Linked DNA regions of Homo sapiens. The protein of the gene in region 3 interacts with the protein of the main gene of each other region in a pairwise test. Each region holds a gene or a part of one and is shown on either strand. Other genes may lie near its edges. The genes, in order: TRIM42, ZFP91, CEP70 and MAB21L2.

Evidence for each region.
Region 1: the proteins of CEP70 (region 3) and TRIM42 interact in binary tests that used the Homo sapiens proteins (3 or more experiments, as listed by UniProt).
Region 2: the proteins of CEP70 (region 3) and ZFP91 interact in binary tests that used the Homo sapiens proteins (3 or more experiments, as listed by UniProt).
Region 4: the proteins of CEP70 (region 3) and MAB21L2 interact in binary tests that used the Homo sapiens proteins (3 or more experiments, as listed by UniProt).

What each region holds. Positions count from the first base shown.
Region 1 is NC_000003.12:140,687,847-140,695,573, forward strand, and holds part of TRIM42 (tripartite motif-containing protein 42), read left to right. Parts: coding exon 1-696; intron 697-3,121; coding exon 3,122-3,346; intron 3,347-7,727.
Region 2 is NC_000011.10:58,602,699-58,610,425, forward strand, and holds part of ZFP91 (E3 ubiquitin-protein ligase ZFP91), read left to right. Parts: intron 1-7,131; coding exon 7,132-7,341; intron 7,342-7,599; coding exon 7,600-7,636; intron 7,637-7,727. UniProt on the Homo sapiens protein: Atypical E3 ubiquitin-protein ligase that mediates 'Lys-63'-linked ubiquitination of MAP3K14/NIK, leading to stabilize and activate MAP3K14/NIK. It thereby acts as an activator of the non-canonical NF-kappa-B2/NFKB2 pathway.
Region 3 is NC_000003.12:138,590,662-138,598,417, forward strand, and holds the start of CEP70 (centrosomal protein of 70 kDa), read right to left. Parts: upstream 3,600-7,756; 5' UTR 3,537-3,599; exon of another isoform or gene 3,048-3,536; intron 1,296-3,047; 5' UTR 1,202-1,295; coding exon of another isoform or gene 1,193-1,201; intron 1-1,192.
Region 4 is NC_000004.12:150,577,763-150,585,666, reverse strand, and holds MAB21L2 (protein mab-21-like 2), read right to left. Parts: upstream 3,517-7,904; 5' UTR 2,638-3,516; coding exon 1,558-2,637; 3' UTR 974-1,557; downstream 1-973. UniProt on the Homo sapiens protein: Required for several aspects of embryonic development including normal development of the eye.

The DNA.
Region 1 (7,727 bases), 2.1 Mb from region 3:
GAGAAAGAGAAGATCATCATGGAGCAGATAGAGAATCTAGAAGTGTCCAGGCAGAAGGAAATTGAAAAATATGTGTATGTTACAACCATGAAAGTGAACGAGATGGATGGTCTGATCGCCTACTCCAAGGAAGCCCTGAAGGAGACTGGCCAGGTGGCATTCCTGCAGTCAGCCAAGATCCTGGTGGACCAGATCGAGGACGGCATCCAGACCACCTACAGGCCTGACCCACAGCTCCGGCTGCACTCAATAAACTACGTGCCCTTGGACTTTGTTGAGCTTTCCAGTGCCATCCATGAGCTCTTCCCCACAGGGCCCAAGAAGGTACGCTCCTCAGGGGACTCCCTGCCCTCCCCCTACCCCGTGCACTCAGAAACAATGATTGCCAGGAAGGTCACTTTCAGCACCCACAGCCTCGGCAACCAGCACATATACCAGCGAAGCTCCTCCATGTTGTCCTTCAGCAACACTGACAAGAAGGCCAAGGTGGGTCTGGAGGCCTGTGGGAGAGCCCAGTCAGCCACCCCCGCCAAACCCACAGACGGCCTCTACACCTACTGGAGTGCTGGAGCAGACAGCCAGTCTGTACAGAACAGCAGCAGCTTCCACAACTGGTACTCATTCAACGATGGCTCTGTGAAGACCCCAGGCCCAATTGTTATCTACCAGACTCTGGTGTACCCAAGAGCTGCCAAGGTAAGAAAGGTTCTGGGCCCAGTGGGGAAGTGGGAGGGTGTGGGGCACAGAGTAGAAGTGAGTAGTCAGGAAAGGTTGCACTTACCTCTTTGACCTCTAGGATCTGGTCACTCATATCTGCTCCTCTAGACTCTTTGTGGTCATCCCATTCAAAAGGGATAAGCTCCTGGAATCTTAAGTAACCCAAAATTAGCTTAAACCAAACAGTCAATATATTTAACTCATAATCGTAAATATATCTGAAAGCCCTACCTCCACTGCAAAGGCAGCTTCTCAACTGAAAGAGAACCCAATTTGGGAACCAAAGTAATTTGAAGACACTACTTGGCAGTGTAATGTTTCCCAAAGGAAAGCCTGTAATAGAGACAGCACAGAAATTGTACTTAGAAATGCAGGCTCCATTACCTATCAGCTGTTTCCGTTAAATTGCTGCCTTTCCTAAAGCAAATATCCAGAATCTCTATGATTTGGAAAAATTGGGAGGATCATCCCCAATGAAATTTCAACTCTTCTGAGATTCAACCCGCCTTGAAGGGAGAGAGTGAAGAGTGGGGTCTGTCACAGACCTCTGTAAGTGCCATTGCCTGGCCTCAAGGGACATGACTTCCCTTTGACCCTCTTGACCTAACATGGACAACATGAACAAATGGGCTTTTCTTTAACATACCTTTCAAATCTAGCTGAACCCACACGGAATTGTTTGTAGAACACTTTATTAAGGTTTATGGAGGAAAAAAATTAACATGCAACTAAATATTCTATTAGAGTGCCTCTTTCCTCCTCTTGGATTTTTCCTACAGTCAACCCATGGCCTGCTCCCATGTGGCAGAGCTCATATTTTGTCTCCCATAATCTGAGAACACTCCCAAAGACTTTCAGATCCTTGAGTTCTCAAACATTGATGTGCACCTGGGGATCTTGTTAAAATGCAGATTCTATTTTAGTAGGTTTCAAAGGGGCCTGAGATTCTGGTTCTCACAAACTTCCAGGTACTGCCAATGCTGCTGTCTACAGACTACACTTTAGTATTAAGGATCTAACAAATGAAGGCCAGATACAGACCAAGATTTACTTTTCCATTCTCCTGACGCATCACAATCTATGTTTTATTGTCTATAATTAACACAAAGAACAACCCATACTTTGCAAGTTAGAACACTCCATGAGCTATCGACATGATGAAGTGTTTCTGCCCTTCACATAAGCAATGCCCATAACTGAGCAGCTGAACTACATTTCCAATTGATACTAGATCAGCAAGGCCTATCGTGTATGCTTATTACCTCAAGTATAGCACTGGGTCTCATCTCCTTGACCAACTGAGACCTCTTGAGAAGTTGGCAGGATCTTGCTCTGGAGTCAGAGGATTGCTAGTATCTGCTCTATACCTGGGCATGGAAAATAGTCACCCCATGCCACCTATTAGTCATCCCTGATGAGCTCAAAAAAGAGACCTACGCAAAACAACTCAGTCAAGTCATTTGCTGTCGAAAGAGGACACCTAAACCTACTGCCAGACAGTGATATTTGATTTTAAAATATCATCGATTCATATTTTAGGATAATGGAATGGACTTCATACAGGAATCATAGTGCTTAGCAATGCAGAAGATTAAGTTTATGTTAACATCACTCTCAAATCTTTAGGATTTTAGCATAGAAAATATTCTGAAACTTAGTGTTGTACCTTTTCAATATGTATTGTTAATATCATAGAGATTTTTTAAACTCAGTTTTAGTTCTAGGAATCTCTTCCAAGAAAATTATTAAAAATTCAGACAAATATTTATGCCCAACAGTATTTATTACAGCATTTATTTATTAGAGTATAAAATTAGAAACAACATAAATGTTCAACAATAGAAGGATTAAATTATTTTGGGAGAAATTTCAAAGATGGTAGTTTACTGAATTTTTAATGATTTAGGAAAACATACAACATAAGTAAAAGAAAATAGAAATCAAAGCTACTTAATCCAAGTTTTTATGTATATATATATATATATATATATATATATATATATATATATATATATATATATATGTTTGTATGTGTGTGTGTGTTCTGAAATTGCAAAGAAATAATAATGAATTAACTGAATTGTGATATTATGAGTGATGTTTATTTTCTTCCCCTCTATTTTTCGGTATTTTTCAAGCAGGAGGACAATTGTCACCTCCATGTCGACTGACAGTAACAGAACGGAAACCTTCTGTTTGTGAAACTCATTACAACCATCATGCCAGGCCTCATCACACAGTCTTCCAAGACTTGTGCATGGTCTAATTAAAAGTCTTCGGTAGCTACAGGGGATGGGGTCAGCTTAAACTCACCCCACAGATAGTCAACATCACAAATCTTTAAGGGAAAGAAAGCTGAATGATGTATACTAGTACCACACCAGTATGTTCATTTCTTCCATAGGTTTACTGGACATGTCCAGCAGAAGACGTGGACTCTTTTGAGATGGAATTCTATGAAGTCATTACTTCTCCTCCTAACAACGTACAAATGGAGCTCTGTGGACAAATTCGGGACATAATGCAGCAAAATCTGGAGCTGCACAACCTGACCCCCAACACAGAATACGTGTTTAAAGTTAGAGCCATCAATGATAATGGTCCTGGGCAATGGAGTGATATCTGCAAGGTATTGTGTGCGTTATTTCTCAGACAGATTTTTTTTTCTATGGTAGGTTCTGGATGAGGCCCTGTTAAGATGATCGTGAGATTATAGAACTCACTATGGGACTCTTCCTCTAAGCACAGAACATTTGTTAACTTGAGGCCAAAGAGAGGGCTGCTGGCCTCAACCAGACTTTGCAGATGTCGCCTGAGAATTGTTCTATTTGATTCAAAAACATTTGTTCTAGGCATTGTGTACAGATGTAGAGATTCAGAGGAAAATAAACATAATCCCTGCCTTCAAGGTGCTCAGGGTCTAGTAAACAAATAATTGTTGTGTGAGAAGGACATGAAATAATTGTGGTACGAGAAAGATAAAAATGAGGTGCTATTCCCAGGCAAGGATGGGGTGCCAGATTTAACTAATGAAAATACAGGATGCCCAGTTAAATTTGAATTTCTGGCACACAATAATTTTTATAAAATATGTCCAGTGCAATATTTAGAACCTATTTATACTAAAAACAATTGTTCATCTGAAAGTCGAGAAACTGCCACTAAGCAGGTCAGTGTGCCTTCCAAAAAAGAAAGGACAAAGTTATTCCTATCTTCTTTGTGATCCAAGACTTACTCTTCTTTATATCTCCAGGGAATACACATTCATGAGTATAATTTTATTGATATTAAAAGGAGAAAGAGAATAAAAATACCAAGACTGCCTAGAGCTGCTATCTTACCATATAACCATAAGGGTGTTCTTTGGAATCAGGGTCGATTACATCTTAATCAGGAATTCTTTAGAAGAAGAAGAAAAAAAAAAAGTCCATTCATTTCAGCTTTTGAAAAGAGAAATTTATGACAAAGATACAGGAAGTCTCATGAGACCACTTCTAGGATATGCATCTGATCTGATACCCAAGGGAACTGGAGAGTCATCAGTTTCTCTCCCTCTCCCTCTTTCTCTTCTCTTCCTCTCTCCCTGCTTCCTTCTCTCTCTCACTCTCTCATTCTCTTTGCTTCTCTCTGGATCTGCACCATTTTTGGCTAGCCCTTAGTTTCTGCTCCCTTAAATTCAGCTTGTATATGGTTTTGAATTGTCATGGCCCAACCCCTGTGTGACCTTAAAGCTCCAATGCCCAACAGCATCTGACCAACCATACTCTGTTTCCTTAGTAAAATGTTCGAGGAAAAGAATCCGAGTGGTTGCTACCTCTAGTAATAAAGGCAAAGCAGGAGTAAGGGTGGTCAGTATACCAATAGCAAATCTCCTAGGGTGGGACCACTCATCCTGGTTGCCAGCCCCAGGGGGACATGCTTTACCTCATAGAGTCCAGCACCCATGGACACACACACACATACACATACACACACACACACACACACACACACACACACAGAGAGAGATAGAGAGAGAGAGAGAGAGAGGTCAAACCTGGCACAGGAAGGATGTGAGATGGGGAAGCCTGCTAGCCACTCCTCCTGCCAGCCTCCAGCCAATTACACTGCTGCTCAGTTGCCCCAAAGCCCTTCTCATTCTTGATACCCTTCTCTTCAGAGCATGGAATGCCCGTGGCTGCCCCACATCCGCATGTCTCTTGACTATGGATTTTTCCTTCCATCTAATCTCATCTGCCTTCTCAGTTTTTAGGAATTCCTCAAAACTGTCTTGCCCATGAAGGGCACTCAGTACTGTTGCTAAAATATATGTAATCTATTATTTTCAGATGCCAGGGAAAGAACGGGTGGAGATACCAAAGTATGTCATCAGTCTACCATCTCAGTCCCTCTTGGCTTTTCTTAGGTAGAGGCTTTTGTTGCCCTTCTGAAATTATGGACTCCTTGAGAATAAAATTCACATCTAATTCATGGTTCTTTCTCCCACAGTGCTTACCACAGCACTTTGCATATAGCTGGTTCTTAATAGTTATTGAATGAGTATATGAGTGAAAATGTGACCAAATAAATGAACAAATAAGGAATGTCTAAATTAAAGAGTGAAGAAATAAATTGATAAAATTAATAATTACAAAGTACCGTAAGATGCCTGAAAGCTGTTAAGTGTTTTATACAGTCAAAAAATAGCATTTCCCTTGAAATTGTGTTTATGTGATTAATTTGCCCTCCCTGTAAGAGAAGGAAATGCATTCCAGTCCCTTTCTTTTTAACACAATATCTAAATGAGCAGAGCCCTAATTAATGAGGTTTTCTGAAAGCTTCATTTTTATCTGACTTGAGGAGCTGCAATATAGATTTTTCCTTCAGAAGTAATTCTTCCTCCCTTCTTTGTGGTTATATTAGCATTCCAGAGGAAACACTGGTTTCCTTAACATTTGTCATGATTTGCATAAGTAAAGCCTTCAATACCAAATGAAAATAAGATGTGTGTTTGAATGACATTTATAAAGTTTCATAAAAGTAATGACTTCATTTCTTACCTATAAAATCAAAATTTTTTCCTTGGCATCAGTTCTATGCAGGTATTCCTGAAAGGTTTCACTTAAAATGTTGCAATGAGGCAGCAGGATCATTTCTTATCCAAAATGCAATATTTCTATCACACGTATTTTTGTTTTAAAAAGTGAAATAACACCTTTTATATTTTATTTGCATAGTCTAGGACTTGATTTTTAAGAGATTTATTTGGTGTGTAATACATGCAGCAAGAAAATTAACTTTAATGATTTTGAAAGGTCCCATTTGAAGGTCATTTTTATGTCAGATGGGGTATATTCATTATCACTAATCATCCCAACCACTGGGAAAGGAGGAAGTGATTGCTTCCATTTTACAGATAAGAAAAATGAGGCTGTAAGAAGCAAAGTGTCTTCCATTTTACAGATAAGAAAAATGAGGCCTCATAGAAGGATGAGTTGAGTGGACACCTTGGTCTGTATCCAAGCCCACAGTCCTTTGTTCCCCTGCACCATGCTCAAATGGAACTAAGTCTGGAACAGGGTAGGCTCAGCCCTGGGGACATAGTACTTTACTCTGGGAGAATGATGTCAAAGCCAACAGCAGGGAGAGCTGAACTTTTATTTTTTGAAAGTCAAGATTACGCATTGAAAAGAGCATTGTATTTGGTCTTGTGTACCTGGATTCAAGTCCCAACTCCACTAGGCTCAGGTCCATGAGGATAGGTGTTGGTCTTACACACCCTTCTGTGCCCATGGTCCCTAGCTGAAAGCTTCTAACATCAAAGAGCCTAATTAATATTTTTGAAGGGTAGAGAAATGTGTTTTTAGGTAAGTCATGTACGTGTTGACCTCAGTTTCTTCCCCTGCTCTTCCTCTGGTCCTCAATATATCTGTTGACCATCATACCCATTTCTGAAAACAGTCTCCTTACTTTGACTCACTGTCTCCCTCTGACTTTATATCTCAGCTGACTTCCATGAAAGCTTCCCATGACAAATCTAACTGCCTATCTGTGTATTAGTTTCCTATTGTTGTTGTAACAAATTAGTAGTTTAAATAATACAAATTATTTATTTCCTTACAATTCTGAAGAAGTCCAAATGGGTCTCACTGGGTAAAATCTGTGTCAGCCATATTGCATTCCTTCTGAAGGGCCTGAGGGAGAATACATTTCCTTGCTTTTTCCAGCTTCTAGAAGCCACCCGCATTCCTTGCCTCATGCCCCTTCCTGAATCTTCAAAGCCAGCAACATTGGGCTGAGTTTTCACACTAGCATCTCTCTGGTTCTGTTCCACCTCCATCTTCCACCTTGAAGGTCCCTTGTGACTGCTTTGAGCCCACCTGATAATTCAGGCTAGTCTCCCTACCTGAAGACCAGCTGGGCCAGGTGCAGTGGCTCACACCTGTAATCCCACCACTTTGGGAGGCTGAGGGAGGAGAATCTCTTGAAGCCAGGAGTTTGAGACCAGACTGGGCAACATGGCAAAATCCTGTCTCTACTAAAAATTAAAAAAAAGTCAGCTGGGTGTGGTGGTGTGCGCTTGTCATCCCAGCTACTTGGGAGGCTGAGGCACGAGACTCGCTTAAGTCTGGGAGGCAGAGGTTGCAGTGGGCCAAGATCAAGCCACTGCACTCCAGCCTGGGTGACAGAGTGAGACTCCATGTCAAAAAAATAAAAAAAGACCAGCTGACTAGCAACCTTAATTCCCCTTTGCTATGTGTGTAACCTAACATATTCAAAGGTTCTGGGATTGGGACATGGACATCTCTGGGGTCCATTATTCTGTCTACCACAATCTGTAAAGTGGATGTCCTAGGTTACATCAGACTTGGAGGTAAAAATTCAAGCCCAACAATAGTTACAAATTGGTAATTTTCTGGGTCTTTCCCTGTTAGCTCTTCAGGAAATGCAGCAACCCCTGTCCCCAACCATCCTCTCAAAGCCCTTCTCAGTCTGCACTGAGAGTCATCCTCGGTGTCTGATGGGGCTGA
Region 2 (7,727 bases), on a different chromosome or scaffold from region 3:
TAGGCTTTTGTGGTAATTTGTTATGGCAGCCCTAGGAAACTAATACATTTTGGTATTGGAAGTGGGCTATGAAAAAGTACCTAAAAATGTTGGCATAGCTTTGGGATTGGGTAATGGATATTGGCTTTGAGTATTTTGAGGTATGGTGCATGCCTCTAATCCCAGCTATACTCGGGAGGCTGAGGCAGGAGAATTGCTTGAACCTAGGAGGCGATGATTGCGGTGAGCCAAGATTGCGCCGTTGCACTCCAGCCTGGGCAACAAGAGTGAAACTCTGTCTCAAAAAAAAAGAAAAGAAAAAACAGCGTAGATTGCCTTGAAGAGATGGTCAACAGAAATATGAGTGTTAAAGGCAGTCTGATGAGGCCTTAGAAGGAAATGATGAACATGTTATTGGACAGTGGAGAAAAGGTGATCCTTGTTATAAAGTTGCAGAGAACTTGACTGAATTGTGTTCTATCATTGGGTAAGCAATGAACTTGGATATTTATCTGAGTAGATTTACAAACAACGTGTAGAAGGTATAGCCTTGTTTCTTCTTGCTTATATACTAATGTGTGAGAGGAAAGATATAAATTGAGGAATGAATTGTTTAGCAAAAAGGAGCCAGCACTTGATAATTTGAAAATTTTTTAGTCTGTCCAAATAGTGTATTGTGGTACAGGACCAAGGCTGTGACTGGACAGCTATTCTCTAAAGAGACTTGGTATATAACTTGTGGATCGAATCAGCCATCTCAGCACTTCCCAGAATAGACATGCAATTTTTCAGGAAAGATCTGTGGAGGACTCTCATTTGGTGGCTTCGACCCCCTGAATTTCATGAAAGACTGACAAAGTTTTTGAGAATGTTGTGACAGCAGAAACACTGCCAGGCTGGCCTGAATGGGACAGAGACAGAATGGAATTAAAGAAGAATGATGCTGAGGGTAGAGCTGCAAATGCTGGGTCCTGGGTGTATTAGACTTCCTGGGGCCACGATGGCAGGGCTATTTCCCCAGTGGACTCAGAGTACAAACCATTATCCACAAAAGCTTATTCTTAGGGCTTAAAGTCTAATGCTTTTCGCTAGGTTTTGGACTAACTTGGGACCCCTGACCCTTTTTCCCCCCTTCTATTTTCTTCCTTTTGATATGGAGATGTGTAATCTATAAGTGTCCCACCATTGTTTTTTGGAATCAGCTCCACAGATGGAGAAGAATTTTGCTCTAGAGTGGACCATACCCCCAGTCTCATTCATAACTGATCTAGATGATGAGATTTGATCCCTTTTGAGTTGATGATTTTTAGGTATTGTTTGGATTTAGACTTGATACTGGAATGGGTTAAGACTCTGGGAGGTTGGGATTAGGTGAATGTATTTTGCACATTGGAAGGACATAAATTTTAGGGAACCAGAAGGTACAGACTACTACGGGTTGAATTTTATCCCTCCAAAAATGTGTTGAGTCCTAGCCCTTAATACCTGTAAATATGAACTTATTTGGAAATAGGATCTTTGCAGATGTAATCAAGTTATAATGGAGTTATTCTGTATTACAATGGGCCCTAATCCACTATGACTGATGTCCTTATAAGAATAAGGACATCACACATGGGACAGGAGGAAACACCGTGTGATGATGGAGATAGAATTGAAGTTAGCAGCTATAAGCCAAGTTGTTGACCACCACCAAAAGCTAGGAAGAGGCAAGGAATGATTCTTCTCAGAGTCTGAGAGGGAGTGTGGTCTGTTATTGTGTTGATTTTGGACTTTTATCCTCCAGAAGTATGGGAGAATAGATTTCTGTTGTTTTAAGACATCCCAGTTTGTTGTGATTGGTAGAGCAGCCCTGGTAGACTAATACATTATTTCAGCTCTCTCTTGCTTACTATTCGCATGTAATATCTTAATCCATTCTTTTACTTTGAACCTGTTTGTGTCTTTGGATCTAAAGCAAACTTGTCCACTATGGCCTGCAGTCTGAATGCGGCTCAGAACGGCTTTGAATGTGTCCCAACACAAAATCGTAAACTTTCTTAACACATTATGAGTTCTTTTTTAAATTTTTTTATCTTATCAGCTATCATTAGTGTATTTTATGTGTGGCCCAAGACATGTCATCTCCTTCCAGTGTGGCCCAGGGAAGCCAAAAGATTGGACAACCAGGTCTAACGTGAGTTTCTTGTAGACAGATTGTAGATTGGTTGTATTTTTTGTTAATCCATTCTGCTAATATGTACCTTTTAATTCCACACTATATGTATGTGTAAACTACCGATAAGAATGGCCTGCCATTTTGCTTTGTGTTTTCTACCTGTCTTAATATCTTTTATTTTGATCTTTATTTTCTTTGTATTTCCTTGTGTTGCAGATATATAGCAGTGTACCATCTTCTCTTTTCATTTTCTGTATATTTTTATTTTCTTAGGGGTTACCTGGGGATTGCATTTAGTACTTTAAACTTTATCTAGTTTAATGCCAGTTTAGCTTCAGTAGTAAACATATCTCTGCTCTGTACTATTCTGTGCCTCACCATTTATGTTATTGTTGCAAAGTGTATGTTTTGATGTCAAATGCCCATTAACATAAATTTACAGTTGCTATTTTGTACATTTGTCTTTCAAATCATGTAGGGAGAAAAAGGAGTTAGAAATCAAAAGTACAATATCATATTTTTGCCTCTGTAAAATATGCCAGTGTTTTAATTTATGGCTTTAAGTGCTCTCTAGTGTCCTTTAATTTCATCTTAGAGGATTCCTGATAGCATTTTTTATAGGGCAGATCTACTAGTGATAATCTGTTTTTGATTTTCTGGTAATGTCTTAATTTCATCTTCGTTTTTAAAGAATAGTTTCGGCAGCTATAGAATTCTTGCTTGACGATTTTTTTTTTTCCTTTCATCACTTTGTTATCACACTGCCTTCTGACTTCCATGGTTTCTGATGAGCGGCTGTTAATCTTGTTGAGTATTCCTTGTTGCTTATGAGTCACTTCTTGCTGTTTTTATGGTTCTTTGTATTTGTCTTTCTACCGATTGATAATAATGTGTCTAGGTGGGGATCTCTTTCATTTATCCTACTAGGAGTTAGGTAAAGTTCTTGTTTGTACAGACTATATTCCCCAATAGTTTTTCAAATATTCTTTCTGTTCATTTTCTCCTCTCCTTCTGCAAATCTTATTATGCATCTGTTGGCATGCTTAATGGTTGTCTAAACGATCTCTTAGGCTTTATTTTCCTTTATTCTTTTTTTCTTTATATTCTTCATACTGGATCATCTCTGTTGGCCTAGCTTAAAGTTCACTGATTCTTGTTTTTCAAGTCTGCGGTGAATTTTTAATTTCAGTTATTATACTTCTCAGCTCTAGAATTTTTTTCTCTTAGTTCCTTTTTTGTGGGGGGGGTGTGGTTTCACTCTTGTCGCCTATGCTGGAGTGCAATGGTGTTATCTCGGCTCACTGCACCCTCCACCTCCTGGGTTCAAGTGATTCTCCTACCTCAGCCTCCCAAGTAGCTGAGAATACAGGGATGCGCTGCTACAAGCAGCCCAGCTAATTTTTGTATTTTTAGTAGAGACGGGGTTTTGCCATGTTGGCCAGGCTGGTCTCGAACTCCTGACCTCAGGTGATCCGCCCACCTTGGCCCTCCAGAGTGCTGGGATTACAGGTGTGAGCCACTGTACCCGGCCTCTCTTGGTTCCTTTTTATAGTTATCTTTTTATTGGTATTCTGTATTTGTCGAGACATATTTCTTCTGATTTCCTTTAGTACTTTGTCAGTGATTTTCTTTAGCTCTGATTGTCTTTAGTTCTTTAAACATTGTTTTTTACAACTTTTATTTTAGATTCGGGGGTACATGTGCAGGTTTGTTACTGGGGCATATTGTATGATATGAAATTTAGGATACAAATGATCCCATCATGCAGGTACTGAGCATAGTACCCAATAGTTTTTCAACCTCCCCCCAATAATCTCCAGTTTCTGTTGTTGCCATCTTTATGTCCATGAGTACCTAATGTTTAGCTCCTACTTTGGTCTCTGTGGTCTCTAAAGGTTCTGGTCCTTTCGCTTATATTCATCAAGTGATTTGACAGATTTCCTTAAACATCTTTACTCACCTTTTTCTTGATTCAGTGCTCACTTGGCTTTTATAACCTTTAACTATTGTTAAGAGTTTCCACAAAGTTGATTCTGACAGTGTTTGTTCATGATATGTGTTTATTTCTGTGGAGGGACATTTTTGCTGTCATCTCTGACAGAGTGGTTTTTTTTTAAGACTAGATTTTTAGGGGACGGGAGCAGTAGTATTCAATAAGATAGGCTATTATGCCTTATTCATAATGGTAAACTATTGTTATCAAATTGGCATCATTTATCCAGTGAGTAAAATCTACAGTATAGGAGGTTGTGGGCATACCATCCTTTCATCATGAAGAAGAAAGGAGCTTTGTTGAGGACAGGAGGTTATGGAGTGAGTTCAAAGTCCAACTCGGTACAGTTGGGTTAAGGAAAAAAAAGATGTGTCTATTATTAAATGTTGTAATACTTCATAGGTGGTGTTGAATTGTTCTTTTTGATGAAATTGTTTTAAAAGTAGTCATGACCTATATGTAAAAGTCCTTCATTATTAATCTCAAAATATGATTTCTAAATCTAGGTGTCCTTAGCTAACCTTGTGATTTTGAATAAGCTTCTTTTTTGGGCTTCCAGATACTTTATGGGTAAAACGTAATGGATTGTGCTTAGACTGAATGGCCTTTGAGGTATTTTCACCTATATTAATGTTTTATTTTTTATTTTTTCTATTAAAATAGCTCAGATAGGAGGGTGATGCAATAATGAATGGAAAAAGACAGCTGAAAGGAAATGCACAACTGATTTTGATGGTTGTTTAGAACTGTTCGCACTGCTATTTATCTCTGTGTTTCAAACTAATTTCATTACTTCAGTATATTGTCATAAAACTTTCAGTGTAATTAAAGCTAAAATAGCCTATAGTCACCACATTGCTCCATAGTAAACTATTTTTTAATGTTAAGCAAAAATGTTGCCATACTGTATATATAGTTTTGTGTCTTTTTTATACATTTAACAATATTTTTGCTGATAATTCCATGTCATTTTTAACATAAACCTACCTCTATATAGTATTCAATCATACTAAGGTATCATGGTTTATTTAAGCACTTTATCTTTGACAGAGGGTTAGGTTGTTTCTGTTCTTTGCTATTATAAACATAATACAGTTAACCTCCATGTGGTAGTTTATATTTCTAGGGCATATACTTAAAGGTGAAATTACTACACATATTTTTGGACCTACCTTGGAAGTAACCAGTACTTAAGAATTTCTTGTACTTCTTCCAGAAATGTTATTATAGTATGTAAGATATATATATATACACACACACACACATACTGTAATGACTAATGTGTAGCACTGTTTTTAAGTAGTAGAAGAGTAGACAACTAAACATTCAAAGGGGGATTGGTTTCATAAGTTATATATTTGTGTGTATATATATCTTACATATATATCTCTCTCTTACATATGTACACAATTATTTGTGAAACCAATCCCTCTTTGAATGTTGTTTTCTACTCTTCTACTACTTAAAAACAGTGCTATATGTTAATCATTTATAAATATGATTGTAATTTTGTAGGATAAATTTCTAGTAGTTGAACATCATGTGGAAAGGTATATACATTTATAATTTTGATGTATATTGTCAAATTGGTCTGCATGGAGGTTTTGCTAATACATTATCATATGTGTGTTAGAGGACCTGTTTTCCCACAGTCTTGACAATACATTATGTTGTCAAATATGATCATCCCCAATATGATACATGAAAAATGGTGTCATGCTATCGTTTTCATTTGAGTCTCTTGTTCTGAGTGGATTGAGCTTTGAGCTTTTGTTTTTTGTTTTTTCTTTTTTTGGAATGGAGTCTTGCTCTTTCGCCGAGGCTGGAGTGCAGTGGCGCAGTCTCAGCTCACTGCAACCTCCACCTCCCGGGTTCAAGTGATTCTCCTGCCTCAGCCTCCCCAGTAGCTGGGATTGCAGTTAGGCACCACGACGCCTGGCTACCTTTTGTATTTTTGGTAGAGACGGGGTTTCACCACGTTGGCCAGGCTGGTCACAAACGCCTGACCTTTTGATCTGCCCGCCTTGGCCACTCAAAGTGCTGGGATTACAGGTGTGAGCCACTGAGCCCGGCCTGTTAGTTCCTATTTTTCTATTGGGTTATTAGACTTTGTTTATGGTTGATTTTTGCCATGAGGAAAATTGTTTTTATGTGTATCTTATGACCTGAAATTTTGTTTTATTATTGGGCCTTTCCCGTTCTGAGTTTATTAAAGAATCTTCTATTGTTAAAATGGGCTCAATTCTAATGTACTTTTTTTTTATATAGGTCTAAGTATTTAGCTACGCCAGGTATGAAAGCCAGTTTCTGAGATTAACTTTTTATTACTTACTACTCAAGAGAGGATGACCTACCGTACTTCACCCTTAAAACATGACAAAATATAGGATAACAATAACAGATTTGTGTGTGCTCCTGTACACAATGTCTTATAGGACAACTGAAACAGAATAGCACCAGAGCTGGACTTTACCATTCAATTGCTCTATAGATTAGTTCAAATTTATGGTGTGGTTCCAAGAAAAACTCTTGATTAGAGTGAAAAGTACTCCTGTTAGGAATTCCTCTTTAGTAATTTGTTATAGACTTGTTTGGTTGTAAATAACATCTAGATCTATGGTTCTTTCTTTTTGGTGCCTCTGTAGTTCTGGTCATCTTTTTGGGACTAATTAATTTAGTTTCTTTTAACTTAGATCTAAAAGGTAGAATTTCATGAATCCAGTTACTTAAGTGTATTTTGCATAGTTAGCATTGCATTTTTTAGAAGATAAGGCAGTATAAAATTACTACTTTGCAACATGAAGTAATTTCTTTAGCATGATGACATTAAGGATAAGTTTTATCTCATTTTCCTTTTTTTATTATTTCAATTAAAGTCTTCAGTTTTTTTTCCTTTGAAAATATTTAATTTATCTTCAACTGTATTTACAATTAGTAGATATACAGGGATGGTTATTGGTTAACTGTAAACTTAAAGAGAATGGTATGTCTTTTTATTTAGATCCCAAGGAAGAAAAAGAGGAAGAAGACGATTCTGCCCTCCCTCAGGAAGTTTCCATTGCTGCATCTAGACCTAGCCGGGGCTGGCGTAGTAGTAGGACATCTGTTTCTCGCCATCGTGATACAGAGAACACCCGAAGCTCTCGGTCCAAGACCGGTTCATTGCAGCTCATTTGCAAGTCAGAACCAAATACAGACCAACTTGATTATGGTACAGTGCAACTAGAATATGGCTGTTTACTAACTAGTTGCTGTTACATTTTAAATGTAATGTTGAACATTTGTGTTAACAGCTTAACTGTCAGGGGCAGGTTTGATGGTGTAGGTGGTATTTCTTTGAACAGTTTGCAGATATTCTGCTTTTGTATAATTACCCCATGCAGTAATTTGATTTGCATTTCTTGACTGCAGAGAGAAAATATCTTATATCTACACTAATAAAATTTTGTTTTTGGCTTTGTTTTTCTAGATGTTGGAGAAGAGCATCAGTCTCCAGGTGGCATTAGGTAAAAAAAACATTAATATTTCATTTTTAAACCTTTGGGGACATAGCATAGTCACAGTAAATGATTCAGAAGTTGCTTCCATTTGAAATTA
Region 3 (7,756 bases):
ATAGCCGATCCTGGTGGTGTGTGCCTATAATCCCAGCTACTTAGGAGGCTGAGGCAGGAGAATCACTTGAACCCAGGAGACAGAGGTTGCAGACAGCTGAGATCGTGCCACTGCACTCCAGCCTGGACAACAGAATGAGACTCTATCTCATAAATAAATAATAAAAAAAAAACAGGGAAGTGATTACTACAAAACTATAAAACCCAGAAGAATGGTGACTAAATGGGAACACAGGAGTTTTGACTGGGATAGGGTAATGGAGGGGATCTGGCATACCTGAATGGTATGGTCCTGTAATAATTTATTAAGCTATACATTTGGTATGTGATTTATAACAAAAATTTCATTTTACGCTAAAAAGATTTTGTTAAATAACAAAAAATAGAAAAGTAAAGGAAATGCTAACCTAACCAAAATAAAGCTGGTACGGGTTGAACGTTCCTAATATGAATATTTGAAATCCAAAATGCTCCAAAATCCAAAACTTTTTGAGCACCAACTTGACACCACAAGTAGAAAATTCCACACCTGACCTTATGTGACAGGTCACAGTCACAACTTCATTTCATGCATAAAACTATTAAAAATGTATAAAATTAGCTTCAGGCTGTGTGTATAAGCTGTATATGAAACAATAAATGAATTTTGTGTTTAGAGTTACCCAACTCTAAACAAGATACCTCATGTATATACAAATATTCCAATTTTTTTTTTAATCTAAAAGTCCAAAACATAGTTCCAAGCATTGCAGGTAAGGGATACTCAACCTGCAGAGCTCTGTAGCCAGACTGCCTGGGTTCAAATCATGGATTCTGCCACACAGCCAGGAGAGTACAGTACTAATCTCTGTGTGCTTCAATTTCCTCATCATAAAATAAGGATAATAAAAGTACTCAGCTCACGAGTTAAAGATTAGAAGAGTTAATATAGAAAGAACATAAAGCATTGTCTGGCACACAGCAGGATGGAGACTGTGATTAGAGTTGGTGATCAGCTTTCTGTGTTATCTTAAGTAGGTATTTAACCTCTCTGAGCTTCAGCTTCTTTGCTGAGTTGTAAAATATCTACCTGATAGGATTATCAGGAAGTCAAAAGGAAATATATGTAATGAACCTAGTATAGTACTCAATAAATATTAGATTTTTTTCCATGGCCTCCCAACATCTGGAGTCATCCGTTACATTAGACATACCTCAGTCATAGCATATTACTCTTGCACTTTACACCTGGTCATTCAGGTTGATCTCAATGAAATGATCACCCAACGAGTCTCATGTCTGAAACTGGATCTTCATCTAGGTTTCAAAAAGATAAAAAGAACAAAATCTTGAAATGTTCAACCTCCTAGTAAGAATGGTCTTGTGTTACTCCCAGAGCAGGCATCCAAGGTACTGGTAATCACAGATAAAGCAGGCACAACTGAAATAACTGCTAATGGCCTTCCCAGCTCACCATCATATGCCTCTTCCCTTCTCTTCTCTCTCCTTCTTATCTTTCCTCTCCCTACCTTGTTAAGACATTTAGCTGGGTATCCAAATCTATCATCATCTATCATCAATTCTGACTTCTGGCTCCACAGGTAGGATATTCTCATTTGCAAGGATACTAAAATGAAGCATCCTCAGACAAACTACCACTGATCACAAAAGCAAACACAGGAACAAAACTACTCCTCATTTGCACCTGTGACCAAGCCCTCCTTTTCAGAGGACCATTCTGTGAAATAAACGGGCCAATAGTTTGCAGCAGCCTTTTCCCCACTACAGGCTGTGACAGGACAAAGGTCTGGAACTTTAAAGTCACAGGAAGAGACCAAATGCTTTCTAGGGCCAAAACAGAAGCTACAGCTTTAATTACTGTCATAACACACTTAAAATAAGATTGTTGGGGGTAGGAGTCGGGGGGTAGGAGTCGGAGGGTAGGAGTTGATTTGTACATGGCATAGTAAGCCAAGCATAGAAAAGCAAAAACATAATTGCATCTTCTGGCACTTTCTAGGTTTCCCGAGTCTTTCAGCCAAATTGCCCTTTATAGGTCTGAAGCCCCTTGTAACATGCTCCATATCTTAAAATTTAATTATTTTTTTCACCATTTGGGGTGGGGGAGGGGAGCTGACAATAAACCATGGCCAATAACTGTTCCTTCTCAACTGAATCACACCAAAATCTGTAAGCATCTTCAAAAGTATATACTTCAAATTACTGCAATAAATGAACATGTAACCCTTTCGAAGTCTCTATTCCTTATTAAATGCAAAAGCTCTATTCTAAAAATATTGCAACTTGCTGTTTAATGTTCCTAAGAAAGAGCTGAACTTACCCCAAATAGGAAAGAGTTAAAATGGAATGTCATCTCAACCAAATCATTCTGTCTCAGGAGAGGTGACATGAAGGGGCAGAACCTTGCTTTGAAGCAAAAGCTGTAGGGAAAACTCCAAGTCAGCCACCTCTTCCCCAAAAGGCGGGGCAGGGGAGGCCAGAGTCTACTTGGCAATATTTAAAGTACAAAACTCATGCAGAGGCTTGAAACCAATATGGGTAATGCCTGCACAGAGTTTAATATATTATACATATATTTTTGAGACAGAGTCTCGCTCCGTCACCCAGGCTGGAGTGCAGTGGCGCGATCTCGGCTCACAGCAACCTCCGCCTCCCGAGTTCAAGCGATTCTGCTGCCTCACCCGCCCGAGTAGCTGGGATTACAGGCGCACACCACCATGCCCAGCTAATTTTTGTATTTTTAGTAGAGACGTGGTTTCATCATGTTGGCCAGGGTGGTCTCGAACTCCTGACCTCAGGGGATCCGCCCACCTCGGCCTCCCAAAGTGCTGAGATTACAGGCGTAAGCCACTGCGCCCTGCCTGTTTAATATCATTGATTGAAAAACAAAGTGGCAGTAAAAAAGGAAACTCTGATTGGTCTCTCTGTTACAGGTGACTTAGCCTTCTGGCATTTTTCACCTTGAAAAACTCCTATTAGGCCCTGTATAAAGTCAGAGGTCTCCTGAATCCGGAATGAGGTTAATAAACTGGAGAAAGAGATACTCACCTGTGCTATTCGCCTAACCGCCCCCTTCTGCTCCGAGTCCTCACTCCCCAAACAACCTTCGCGGTTGTTTGACACAAAACTAGCGCTTCAGCCCGGGTCGATTTTGGGGGATGGAGTAATTACCTACAGCTTAAATCGAGTCTGTGCCCGACGTGATTCTAAGCTTTACTCTTACTGCCTCATTTAACCCTCACAACCACCTTGTAAGGCAAGAATTACCAGCTTTAGTATACAAATAAAGAATCGGAGGCGCTGAGACATTAAAGGAGAAGCCAAAGAACACAAAGCCTGGGGAGCTGGGACTGGAGGCAGTTTTGTCCGATCCCCAAACCCTTACGCAGGGATTTTTAATTGGCGCGACCCTGTCCCAGATGGCTCCTCCCCGACAAGGGTCAGTCTGACCACTTTTAGGCCCAGGTGAGGTCAAGTCCGGGGTACTCCGGGAAGGGGCTCACGCCGACGCCTCTGAGAGCCCCGAGAGCCACTCACCTTACTCAGTCGCCGGCCTCCCACCAGCAGCCAGCCGGGCCAGGTTAGGCTGGGATCAGCTACGTCAGGCCCCGCCTCCGCGACCGTTACCACCGCCGGGGGAGGGCGGCCAATCGAGCCCGAGCGCGTCGAGGGCCAGCCCCTCTTTGGCCTGCGAATGCCCCCAAACGATTCTCTCCAGCCTCTCCGGGAAGCTGGGTCCGCCCCGCTCCCTCCGGTTGGCTCACTACGGGGGGCGGGGCTTACCGCAAACGAAGGCGTCGGTGCGATGTGCTGGTCTCGGGCACGCTGGCGCTTCCAACGCACTCCTTGGGTGCCCTGTCACTTACATGGAGGCTTATTTGCCCGGAAGACGTCAGAAATACTTGTGGCCGTGGGTGAAAGTGAAGCCTGGGTTACCTGGCCACCAGAGACTGCCCTCTCTCTCGCCCCCTACCCCGCCGCGACTACGAGCCCTTGCTGGGGTACGGGTCAGCATGTTCTCGATGTTCCAGACCTGAATGACCACTGTAGCAGCTGACATTTGGAGGACCCCAATAAATATTTGTTGACGACAGTTCATCTTCCCATTCAGCATTTTCCACATCTCGACGAAGCGTCAGGCCCTACCTGAGGCTGTAGCTGTCCACCATTGTCATTGTATCTTATAGCCACATGGTGTCGCTGTTGACAACTTGTCTTTTCAAATCAGTCAAATGATGTAGGTCTGTGTTACAGTCAAATGTTGCAACAGACTGTGTTGCAGTCAAATGATGCAGGTCCCACAGTAGCCAACAGGGATGTCCCATCTAGGGCATCAGCCAAGGGTCTCTCATCAGGAGATCCAAGGGCTCTTGGAGCTCAATACTTTCAGACCCTTCTTAGCCTTCTTCCAGGCAGCTGGGACTACACTTAGGTTTGATCTCTGTGTTTGCCCCATGCAAACATGTCCCTACCCCAACCTACGCCTACCCACTGTGCTTTCCATACCTGGATATTCACTCTAACGACGGTTAGCAGATTGCATTTTCAGTTCTCAAAATGCAAATAGTCTCAGTGCTTCCCTTTTCCAAGATAATAGGGTGCCCTTGCATACTCTTCTGAGAATGGCTGCCCTAATTGTAGAGGCCAAACATCTTTGAGTCAGTTATTATTATTTTGGATGCACGTGATATAGAATCTGAGTTAAACTGTCTTCCTAAAAAATAAAGAAGTTGCTTATCTCGCATAACAGAAAGCTCAGAGGCAAGGGAGACTTTGATTAATTCAGTGGCTAAGCAAGTTAACAAGGACCCAGTTGCTATTAGTCTCTGCTTTGTTGTAAAAAAAAAAAAGGGTAGACTTCAAATTCATACTAACGTGATTTTCCAGATGTCTACTTGGAGAAATCAGGACCACATACTTTCTTTTTCATCTAAAACCTTTCCTTCTGGTTTTTTGAGCCAATAAGTTCACACAGGCACACACTCTTCCTCTTTACCAGTAACTGCCTGGGAAATGTACAGACAGCTTAAGCCTGGGTTCCAGAAGTGAAAAGGAGCTATGACAATTGGAATTGGCAATGGTGTCAGTGCTCTTTGAGTCACATGAGTTGCAAGGTGGAGACATGGCTATTTGAATAAAACTGGAGACCTGTAAAGGAGAAGAGGAAAATGGATGCTAGATGGATGATCACCAGTATCTTTCACAGTCTTCAAAGCACAAGAAGGCTGATTCCTCTCTATTTTCTAACTGAATTTTTTATGTGGTGAATGGAGGGGAAGAGTTGCTATAGCACTGCCCTCCAAAACAATTCCCTTCTTATGGACCATGAAAGCCTTTCCAGCACCTCTCTTTGCTAGAGAAGGAAAACATCCCTGCACACAAACTTAGTCTTTCACTGAGAATCCTGCTACATTGGTCTCAAGAGTTTTCTATGGGCCTCATCTACCCAATAGAATTCTAATAATTCTAAACATTCATTTAACATTCATTCATTTATAAAAATGTGTTGGCCGGGCACAGTGGCTCACGCCTGTAATCCCAGCACTTTGGGAGGCCAAGGTAGGTGGATCACCTGAGGTCAGGAGTTCGACAACAGCCTAGCCAACATGGGGAAACCCCATCTCTACTAAAAATACAAAATTGGCCGGGTGTGGTGGCACATGCCTGTAATCCCAGCTACTTAGGAGGCTGAGGCAGGAGAATCGCTTGAACCCGGGAGGCGGAGGTTGCGGTGAGCCGAGATCTCACCATTGCACTCTAGCCTGGGCAACAAGAGCAAAACTCCGTCTCAAAAAAAAAAAAATTTTTTTGTTAAGCACCTGTTTTGTACCAGGGATTGAACTAGATGCTGAGTCAGATTTATAAGTGGGGGAGTTTACAATAGTAAGTAAGCCCAGTTGTGATTCCTGCCTTCGTGGATCTTATAGTCTAACTGCGGAGAAAATATGAAACAAATGCAATTAAGTATATATTATTAATATAATAAGTGATATCAAAGAAGAGAAGAGGGGCTATGGAGGAAGCCTCTCTGATGAAGTGACACTTAAGTTGAAAGCCAAGCATGTCTTCATTTCGGCTTTCTGCTTTCCTCTGTACTTTGGCTTCCTAGCATAAATTATAACTTTCATTAGCAGTTAAAACACATCTTTTATTTCTCAACTTCTTTTTTTTTTTTTTGAGACGGGAGTCTCGCTCTTGCCCAGGCTATAGTGCAGTGGCGTGATCGTGGCTCACTGCAAGCTCCACCCCCCAGTTCACGCCATTCTCCTGCCTCAGCCTCCCGAGTAGCTGTGACTACAGGCGCCTGCCACCACGCCTGGCTAATTTTTTTTTTTTTTTGGTATTTTTAGGGGTTTCACTGTGTTAGCCAGGATGGTATCAATCTCTTGACCTTGTGATCCACCTGCTTCGGCCTCCCAAAGTGCTGGGATTACAGGCGTGAGCCACTGCACCCGGCCTAATTTCTCAACTTCTAAACTGATTCTCAAATTTTCTTCTGGGTATAGAACTGTCATATTTCTCCCTAGAAAAACATGAGTATATCATATGTAATGGTAATCATGATGAATTCTCAAAGATTCTTCAACTCATAAGTTTTTTAGACTTAGATTCCTTTATTACATGAATACATTTGTTTCTGCCTTTTCCACAAGAATTTGAACCCCTGGGAACATGAACCATGTCTTACTAAACTTCATCCTGCAGCTAGCATATTTCCTTGGTGCACAGTAGGTGCTAAACACAGCTTTGAACTGTAGCAGGACTAACCACAGACAAAACCTCTCAGACGCTGAGTTGTATAAGGAAGGGCTTTATTCAGCTGGGAGCATCAGCAAGCTACTGCCTTAAAATCCGAGCTCCCTGAGTGCACAATGTCTGTCCCTTTTAAGGGCTCACAACACTAAAGATTTCACATGAAAGGGTTGTGATTGATTTGAGCAAGCAGGGGGTATGTGACAGGGACTGCATGTACTGGTGGTCAGAGAGAAACAGAACAGGGCAGGGAGTTTCACAATGTTCTTCTATACAATGTCTGGAATCTATGAATAACATCGGTTTCTAAGTTATGAGTTGATTTTTAACTACTGGGTTTAGGCCAGGCAGGCCCAGGCCTGGTTTCGGGCCAGGCGCCGGGCTGCCTGTCTTTGGTTTTACTTCCTTGTTGTTTTTTCTTAAAACAGGTACTGAGTATAAAACAATATAAAATAATATGAGAGGGTCTTTCTCTTCTTTCAGAACTACATTGTTAAATTTGAGTCAAATTTATTCAGAGCATTCACCTTCAGTAGTCATTTTCCAATGTGAAGGACAATATGCAAACAGCTGAGGCAAATATATTAATGACAAATGCTCAATAATCCATACAGAATAACAATAGTTATGTTAATTGGGCACTTAAAATGTGCTAGGCTCCGAGCTAAGCACTTTCATTTTCTAACTTGTTGAATCTTCGCAACAACCTTAATATAAGTACTGTTATTATCTGTTTTACAAATGAGCAAGTTAGGAAATAGAAGCCAAAAAAATTTTGAAATGATTTGCCACGGTCACACACTAGTATATGGCAAAGCCAGGATCTGAACCTAGGCATTCAGGCTCCAAAGCCTATGTCATTAACCACTTGACCATACCACTTCTTGTGACAGACATCTGCTTTACCATCAGATTGGTATATGCATTTATTACAATTTGCAATTATTTACTGTGTATTAGTTATTGCTAATGTCTGTGTATTAGTTATCTATTGGTACATAAAA
Region 4 (7,904 bases), on a different chromosome or scaffold from region 3:
CCTGTGTCTCATCATTAGCATAGCGAATGGAGTATATAGTTACCTTCAACATAAGCAAGACAAACCAATTCCTTTGGGATACTTTCTGTTTGACTAATTATATTATTTTCTAATCAGTTATTCCCTTGCATTAAAAAGAAACCTTTGTTAAAGCTGAAACATTGAAATGAGTATATTGGTTTGTTACCTTAGAAAAACAGAAAGAGGAGGAAGGTACTTTTCCTATTTCTAAATCCTGGAATAATAATTTTTCTTTGGTTATAAAAATGGTATGAAAACCTTTTTTGTTTGAATTGCATATAAGCAGTTTCAGAATAATTCTTGAAATTTGATTAAAATAATCATACTTATGGAATTTACAACTAAGCCATTTTAAAATGGAAGTAATTTATAAATCTGAATGGTTCATATCACCATATGCTTGGGGAGAGGATTATTGCTATAACCATTGTATTTTTTGTTGTGGTTTATTTAATTGTTAAATTTTTATCACTCAAAGCTTGAAGAGGACAAACGGTTGAAGGAAAAGTATCAACTGACTTTGTTAACTATTCAGAAAAATCCATAAATATTTCCTTTGTATATCGGATTCAGATTGGATTTTTTGAAATTATGGCATAAGAAAGCACATCTCTTAATTTTTAATGTGAAAAAGTTTTTTCTATTTTAAAAATTAGGATCAAAATATTTTCTTTCATACTTTTTTCCCAAGCGTGAAGTAGATGTTACTTTTAATCTTAACATCTACAGAACAAATATATATTATAGTTGAGTAAAATTAGTGTTTTCTATTTTCTAAGGATTTGGGTCGGAACTTATACAGTCAATTCTACAAAATGTACTGTATTTAAAATTTTGCAAATCAGTTCAAGTGGAAGCTTCTTGCATTTGATTCCTCGTCACATCTTTACATTGGAAATTATAAACTGTGATCTCACCTGCCTTCACTTAAGAACAATCCACAAACAGTCAATTACAATGTAAAGTAATGTTTTTATTACTGTTTTCAACAAGACAGCTCAGGGTGAGGGTAGAGGTTCAGGAGAGGGAGGAGCACAGTCTGACATTGGCACTGAGAACGTTTAACATCAGTAAAACTTTTTTTTAAAAGAGAAATTTTACATATAGTTAAATAATTTTTTCACTTGGTGACAACATTCAGGCAACCAAAAGCAAAACGAAATGGGGGGGGGGATGGGGTGGAGAGAAAAAGGATAGGGGGAAAGAAGGAAAAGGGGGGGGAACTACTATACATTGATTTGAAAATGTACCTTGGGTTTCATTTTGTGGTGGCGGAGCCCGATTGCTTCTTTTGTGTGACCTTTTAAATTCACATTGTTTGGAAGAAAACGATCACTTTTGTGCAAGAATGTGATTTGTTTTGGTTGGGTTGCTCTCTTTTTGTTTGCTTCTTAATTAATGAAGGTCTTCTGCCGGATTCCTATTTCAGGTGACTTACATAAAAGTTTGTGTCCAGAGTTTCTGCTGTTTATAGCAGAGTTGTGTGTCTGAGAGAGCACGCCCGTTTGTGTCGCTTTTCAAGCAGTCCCCAGCACCCTATAGTTTGTCCAGGCTTTTGGGATTGGTGAGAATTTCCCTGGCCAACCTCCAGGTCTGCTTGGCAGCGCTCTCCAGGGCCGAATGGGGCTTGCCCTGAAAGAGGTCGAGGTTGGGCAGAAAGTAGTGAGGGCAGCGGCGGCACTGCAGGCAGGAGATGAGCTGCAGCAGGATGCCGTTGAGCCGGTCGCCCAGGCACGACTCGTCCCAGTCCGTTTCTCGTGGGTGTTTCTCGCACTCGTACAGCAGCAGCGTCTTCATGTGGTAGTTGTTGAGCGGCTGGCCGGGTAGCTCCAGGTGGCGGTCCCGCAGAGTCTTCAGCACTGAGAGGCACTTGTTTCGGCAGCCGCCCATCAGCAGGCGGTTCTCCGCCTCCCCGAACTGTAGCACCCAGGCGTCGCTCTCTGCCGAGCTCTGCTTGCCGGTCAGCGAGTAGCACTCCTTCGAGAGCAAGTTGAACCCTTCGGCCTTGACCTCGGCCACCCGATTGGGGCCGGGCCAAGGGATGTGGGGCATAGGCCACTGTGCCGCGCTGCGAGGCCAGATCCCGGTGCACTTGAACGCCGGAGTGATTTGCACCACATAGCGCTCCCTGATGCGCAACTTGACCTCGCTGGTGTCCGCGATCATCTTGACCACATCCCGATAGCTGCACTTGTCCACCGCCTGGGCCACCAGCGTCTGGAAACGCGAGCGGATCTTACGCGCTGAGAGATAGCCCGACGCCGTGATGAACTCGACCCAGAGAGACATGCTCCGCTTCCGCCCATCGCTCAGTTTGAGCACTGCGCAGCCGGGCAGCGAGCCGTCGTCCACGAAGTTGAAGACGCCCATCTGGTTTAGGTAGAGCACCACCTCAAATTCGGTGGGCGAAATGACCTCGAGCCCCTCGTAGCGGGCATCGATCTCGCTCAAGGAGCTGATGAAGCGAGGCTCCTGCACCTCCACTTCCTTGAGCACGTCCGAGACCACCTTACAGACCTCTCGGATGGTTTTGGCGATGGCCGCCTTGCGCGCCTGACAGCGCTCAGTGTAGTACTTATTGAGCTGGTAAACCAGCTTGGCCTGAGCGGCGATCATGTTGGGGCACAGGTCCGGGCTATACACCGGCGTCTCGCAATACGTTGAGGGATCCAAGGCTCACGCACTGGTGGTGGCCCAGCGGCTTTCGAAAGAGGCGGTGCGCTCCCCGTTAAGCCCTACTTTCACTCTCGTTTTCCACCTGGGCTGACCGGCTGATACCGTAGCCGGCTTGTTTTTTCCTTTTCCCTCTTTCGAAACCTCTTTTCTTCTGCAGAAGAATTAGGGGAGAAAAGGTGATTTTCTAAAAAGAAAAGTACCTCTTGGAACCTTTTTGCTTTCTCTTGATATGTAAAGATGACCGTGTGCGAGAGAAGCGGGGTGGGCGTGAGGAAGGAGAAGGAGAGGGAAAAAACTCAGGATACCAAAAGGTTAGGCTTAGATGTCTGCAGCCGAGATTGTCCAGAAATCTGGAAATGAGGTTTTTTAAGTGCCAAAGTAAATTTAAAAATAAAAGCGAAACATTCAGTGGTTCATTCTTAAACTTCTCTTCCACGCTGATAGGACTTCTTCGCTCAGTGTAGGTGAGTGCCTTCTTCCTCACCCTCCCCCAAATGGAAGGTGCAGGAGGTAATTAATGTCCAGAGAGCTGCGAAGTACAACTCAGTCCGCCGTGCACTTGGAGGTTTGCTGACGCCCCACAGTCTCAGCGTGTTGGTCTCGTCTCTTCTCGGGGGGTCGTGTTATCGCAGTTTTCCTCTTTTCCTACTGGAGGCGTTGTTTGGACTGGGTTTGTTTGTTTGTAGTGGGTTCTCCTTGTGTTTCTTTAGGTGCAAACCGCTGGAAGTTGTTTGATAATCATTTCTGCTTCGTAATTTATACTTTTGGCCCTCACAAAATCCGTTTTAGTGTGACGAAGTCGTTGCTTGCGTTGCATCTGGGGTGTAGTTATAACGATTCAGGGTTTTCCTTCTTCTCCTCTAGCTTGCTTTTACAGATTCCACTTTCTGAGTCGTCTCTCCCCCTCCTCTCCCCTCCGACCTCTTTCTCGCCCCGCTCTCCCCCTGCTTCTCTCCCCCGCCCCCCTTCCTCGTGCTCGCTCTCTCTTCTTTCCTCTAACTCTCTCTGTCTCTCTCTCTCCCTCTCTCTTTCTTTCTCTCTCTCCCTCGCTGTTTCCTGGAGTTATTTAGTTTATGAATGGTCCCAGGGCCATCATGAGGGGGTGGAGCTTCAGTTCCTACAATCGCTATCCGAGCTGTCAGTGCTTTAGCCAATCCGAGAGAGAAGACAGGCACGCTTGGCGAACGGTAGCAGCCACCACTGCACTTGATAAAGAAACAGGGTAAAGAGAGAAGTAAGAAAATAGGAGGAGATAATGGGAGTCAAATGCTTGCACACATTTTACAGCCGTTCCTCTTTATCCTCCTCTCTTATCAGTAGCAAAGAAGAAAAAGAGTTTATATAGAAGGGACTCTCCTGGAGATGGCTGGAATAACGCGAGGGAGAGTAGCAATGGTTCAGAAAGGTTCACTTTTTTTTTTTTTAAATGATTCTATCAACATTGTGTAGTAGAAGGTGCAAACTGTAACAAAATTACTTTGGCTTGAAGGCAAATGGGAAGCGAAAGGGGAATCTGGGAAAGGACCTAATTTTTCCAGGTTTTTTCCTCCTTTAAAGTCATCCTCCTTTCTCTTCCCCTCCCCTCCCATTGTTGCCAAGAATCAGAGCAGTTGCTGTATATGTGCACCAGTGAGGGTTGGAGTGGATATAAGGTGAGGGTTTATAAATCTCTTTTTAGTAATTTCGATATGCTGTTTAAAAACAGGGCAGGGCAAAAACTAGTCCAAGCACCTTGTTTGATAATTATTTCATAATTAAGATTCACATGTATTTAATACCATTATTTTATCGTTACAAGAATTAACTAGTTACGAGAGAGAAAATATCTAAGTTGTGAGAAATGGTGCAAACTTACATGTCGTAGAACTTAGTAGGATATACTTTTAAAATAAGCTACTAAAATTGCTTCAAACTTAATGAAAAACAAGGCAAGTAAATGTAAACCTAAAGTTTTCTTAAAATCTTACTGTTGTAAATCTAATTGTGAATGTATTCTTAGGGGGTACAGGTACAGAGTTTCATTTGTAAAATGATTTTATTTTCATAATTGACTCTTGCTTTTAAAAGACTTCACTGCCACAAAAATCTATAACTATCCTGTTATTGATTACACAGATGGCTTCACTCCTCCCTAGGCATTTCAATGAAAGGCATGCATGTGCTTTTAGTATATGTATTATCCTAAACGAGTTGTACCCACTGTAGCCTTTCCATACTTTTGGGTGAAAAAAAAAGCTAGAACATTGTTTCTGATTTGCTTGATACTGAGGGTTTATGTATGAACCTAAGATGTCTGGATTCTGAATCTTTTTAACGTATTTCAGGTAGATGTGATTATTTTTAGTTTGATTTGGGAGGTTATATTCCAGCCCTGGGTTATGCGATAAAAATAAAAATCTATGCGTCCATTTGGGTGAAGACTTCGTTTTAGAAACCTGGTAGTTCGGCTTTTTCAAAACCCCTTGGGAGGGCTTGACTTACCCTCTTAAAGTCCGGCCGGGTGAACCTGAATTGAATTGCATAGGGAAGTTAATTTCTTTCTATCTACTTGGTATCAGACAATTGGGCCTCTTGGTTCTTTCTTACATACCTGGTGCGGACCACAGGCAGTTTGTCACCCTTCCTCTCTCGTTGCCATAAGTCCCTTTCTAAGGAATATTTGCTTAAAAAAAAACTATCTCGGATTTGTTGCTTAGGGTTTGTCTTCCCGCGATTAGGAAGAAGAGTCAGAATTAAGTGTCCGCGCGACTCTTGGACTCCAGAGCTTTAGTTAACTTCTCTGGAGTGGCAGAGACTTGGGCTGCTTGACCTCCAGCCTTCTCCGGGGAGGCCGCGTGCGTCCCGGAACGCCTCGCCGCCTAAGGATCTAGGGGACCTCGCGCCCTCGGAGTTCGCGCCTGTGGGAGCCCGGCTCTAACCCGGGAGGCCTTGCCGGCGCTCTGGGAACTGCCTGGGCCGGAGGGCACTGCGCTGCCGGGAGAGCGCGACTGGCCGGGAGGGGCTCCGTGGTTGCTTCTCCGGGGGCAGTTACTGGGCGGAGACTGGTGGCGGGGATAGAGGGTGCGGAGCTTTCCCGCCCCACTCTCGAGGTGGTCGCTTCGTCGTTGCGTCTGGTTCGCGAATGGCCCGGCCCGCGACGCTCCCGAGAGTGAGTGTTTGCAAACAGCCTCAGGGGTGGCGGAGTTGGTTCGCATGGCTCCGCCGCCGCGCCGCAAGTCCTGCGCCTTCTCCTCTTCTCTCGGGTGGGGCGTCCCAGGCCGAGCGGACCTTCGCGCCACCACTCGCCGGACACTCCGCTGCACCTCCACTGGCGGCTCTGTCAAGCTCGGCTAAGTTTTCTCGCATCCTTGCCCCTACGCTTCTCCACTTTTACATACAGAGGGAAGGATGATAAAACGTTACAAATGTTTTGATTTAAAAACAATTCATTACCAATTTACCCTGTCTTAGGTAGATGCTCTAGTAAATAATAAATCAGTTAAACAAAGGCGACTTTAATTTATGGCCGTGGTACTAATTAGAAACATCATTCGAGCAATAAACTTAAACACTTCCAGCAAATAATGCTCCCTCTTGCTGGTTCTCTTTCTCCCCCCTCCCCCACCCCAACTCACTCTGGCTGCCTCTGCTCTAAGAGCAGCTTCAGCTGCGCCTTTGCGGTCCTCTCTTCCTCTGGTTGAATAATTGAAGGGGGAAACGGTATCCGAGGAGGCTGTAATTGAAGAGCCCCTGTCACCTCTGCTTTTATGTATGTTAGTATAGAAGTCCATCAGCAGCTCCTTGATGGTGTATTAAAACGAACTGGCAGCTCCTTCTGCAGGAGATACTATATTCTATTAAAGGAGACCAAGTGAGAGAAAGAAACTCTAGAGGCTAAAAGCCACTTCAAGTCTTCAGACCGATTCATCTGTATTCTCTTGTTATAATCCGTCTCATCATACTTGAGTTAATGAGGCAAAGGAGGGGGTGCGAAATCTGATGGTCCTTGACAAATTCATTAGGGAGGCTGCAGGACATTTTATTTGACTGTTAAACATCTTGTTTGTTTGGCTTAGGCAGTGCCAACATTGGCATGCTTCAGCCCAGAGCTGTGGTGCTGGGCTAGCTGCAGGACATTCCTAAAAAGGGAAGGAGGACATTCAGGGTGTGATCTGAATTTTTTGTTTTGGATATCAGGTAGTCCGTAACCTTCAGACTTCTCTAGGCTTTACCTCTTGCATCATTACATTAGGAACATAAAGAATGTAGGTGATAGTACTGAAGTGGGCATGTTTTTAGTTACTATAAACTAAAATATGAGGATGTTTAAAACTTTAGTCTGAAAATTTCCCAGTTTCTTCAAAAAATTGAGTCAGGTTGTAGTAATTACGGTACTAGTTTTATAGCAATGTGAATGTTTAAGGTCCAGTCAAATAACCAGATTACTCATTACATCCTATTTTTACTTATCATGGTTAAATAAACTTTTAATTATTAATGGAATTTCCTATTTCACCGAAACCTTTATGAGTACAGAAACTTGGAAATAAAAAATTAACTATTTATACAAATATATTTTCAAAAAAAATTGGCATATTTTAAGGAAATTTTTATAATTAAAATTAGAAGCAAAACTGAATACTTGGTGTTAAAATAAGGTGATGAGTTGACAGAGTACTTTAAAAAGTGAAAATATTTCTAATTGAAGAATAATGGGTAATTAAGCTAGAATGCTAACCTTACAATGTTTTATTCTAAGATAATAATACAGTATTAGATTTATCAACATGTCCTTGAAAAGTAGTAAATAATCCAATTGTGATACTTTCTTGCATAGAGAATTCAGTTGTATTTTTCCTTCAGCATTGACTGAGCTTGAGCTTAAGTGCTTTGAGAAAGAATCCTGTCTTCCATTTATAGGAAAACAGTATGGAAGTAAAAAAACCTAATGCCCTTTGCCTGTCATTTTTATACATTCCTGCACTGCTGATGAAGCTTGAACGGCTGCAGGGAATGTATGGATTTGAAAAGAAATGATGCAGTAGTTCATGTTGTGTTTCTCAGGAGCCAAACCAAACTAATGGCTGAAGTCAGTGCTTCTGTAATCTGACAGTTATAATCCTGTTTATGTTTCCAGAGAATACAAAATTCTTAAACTGTTTTATTTTTTGCTGATCTTTACTTAAAAATGTATTTACTGAGTTAACGTCAGTGCATTTGTTACTTTA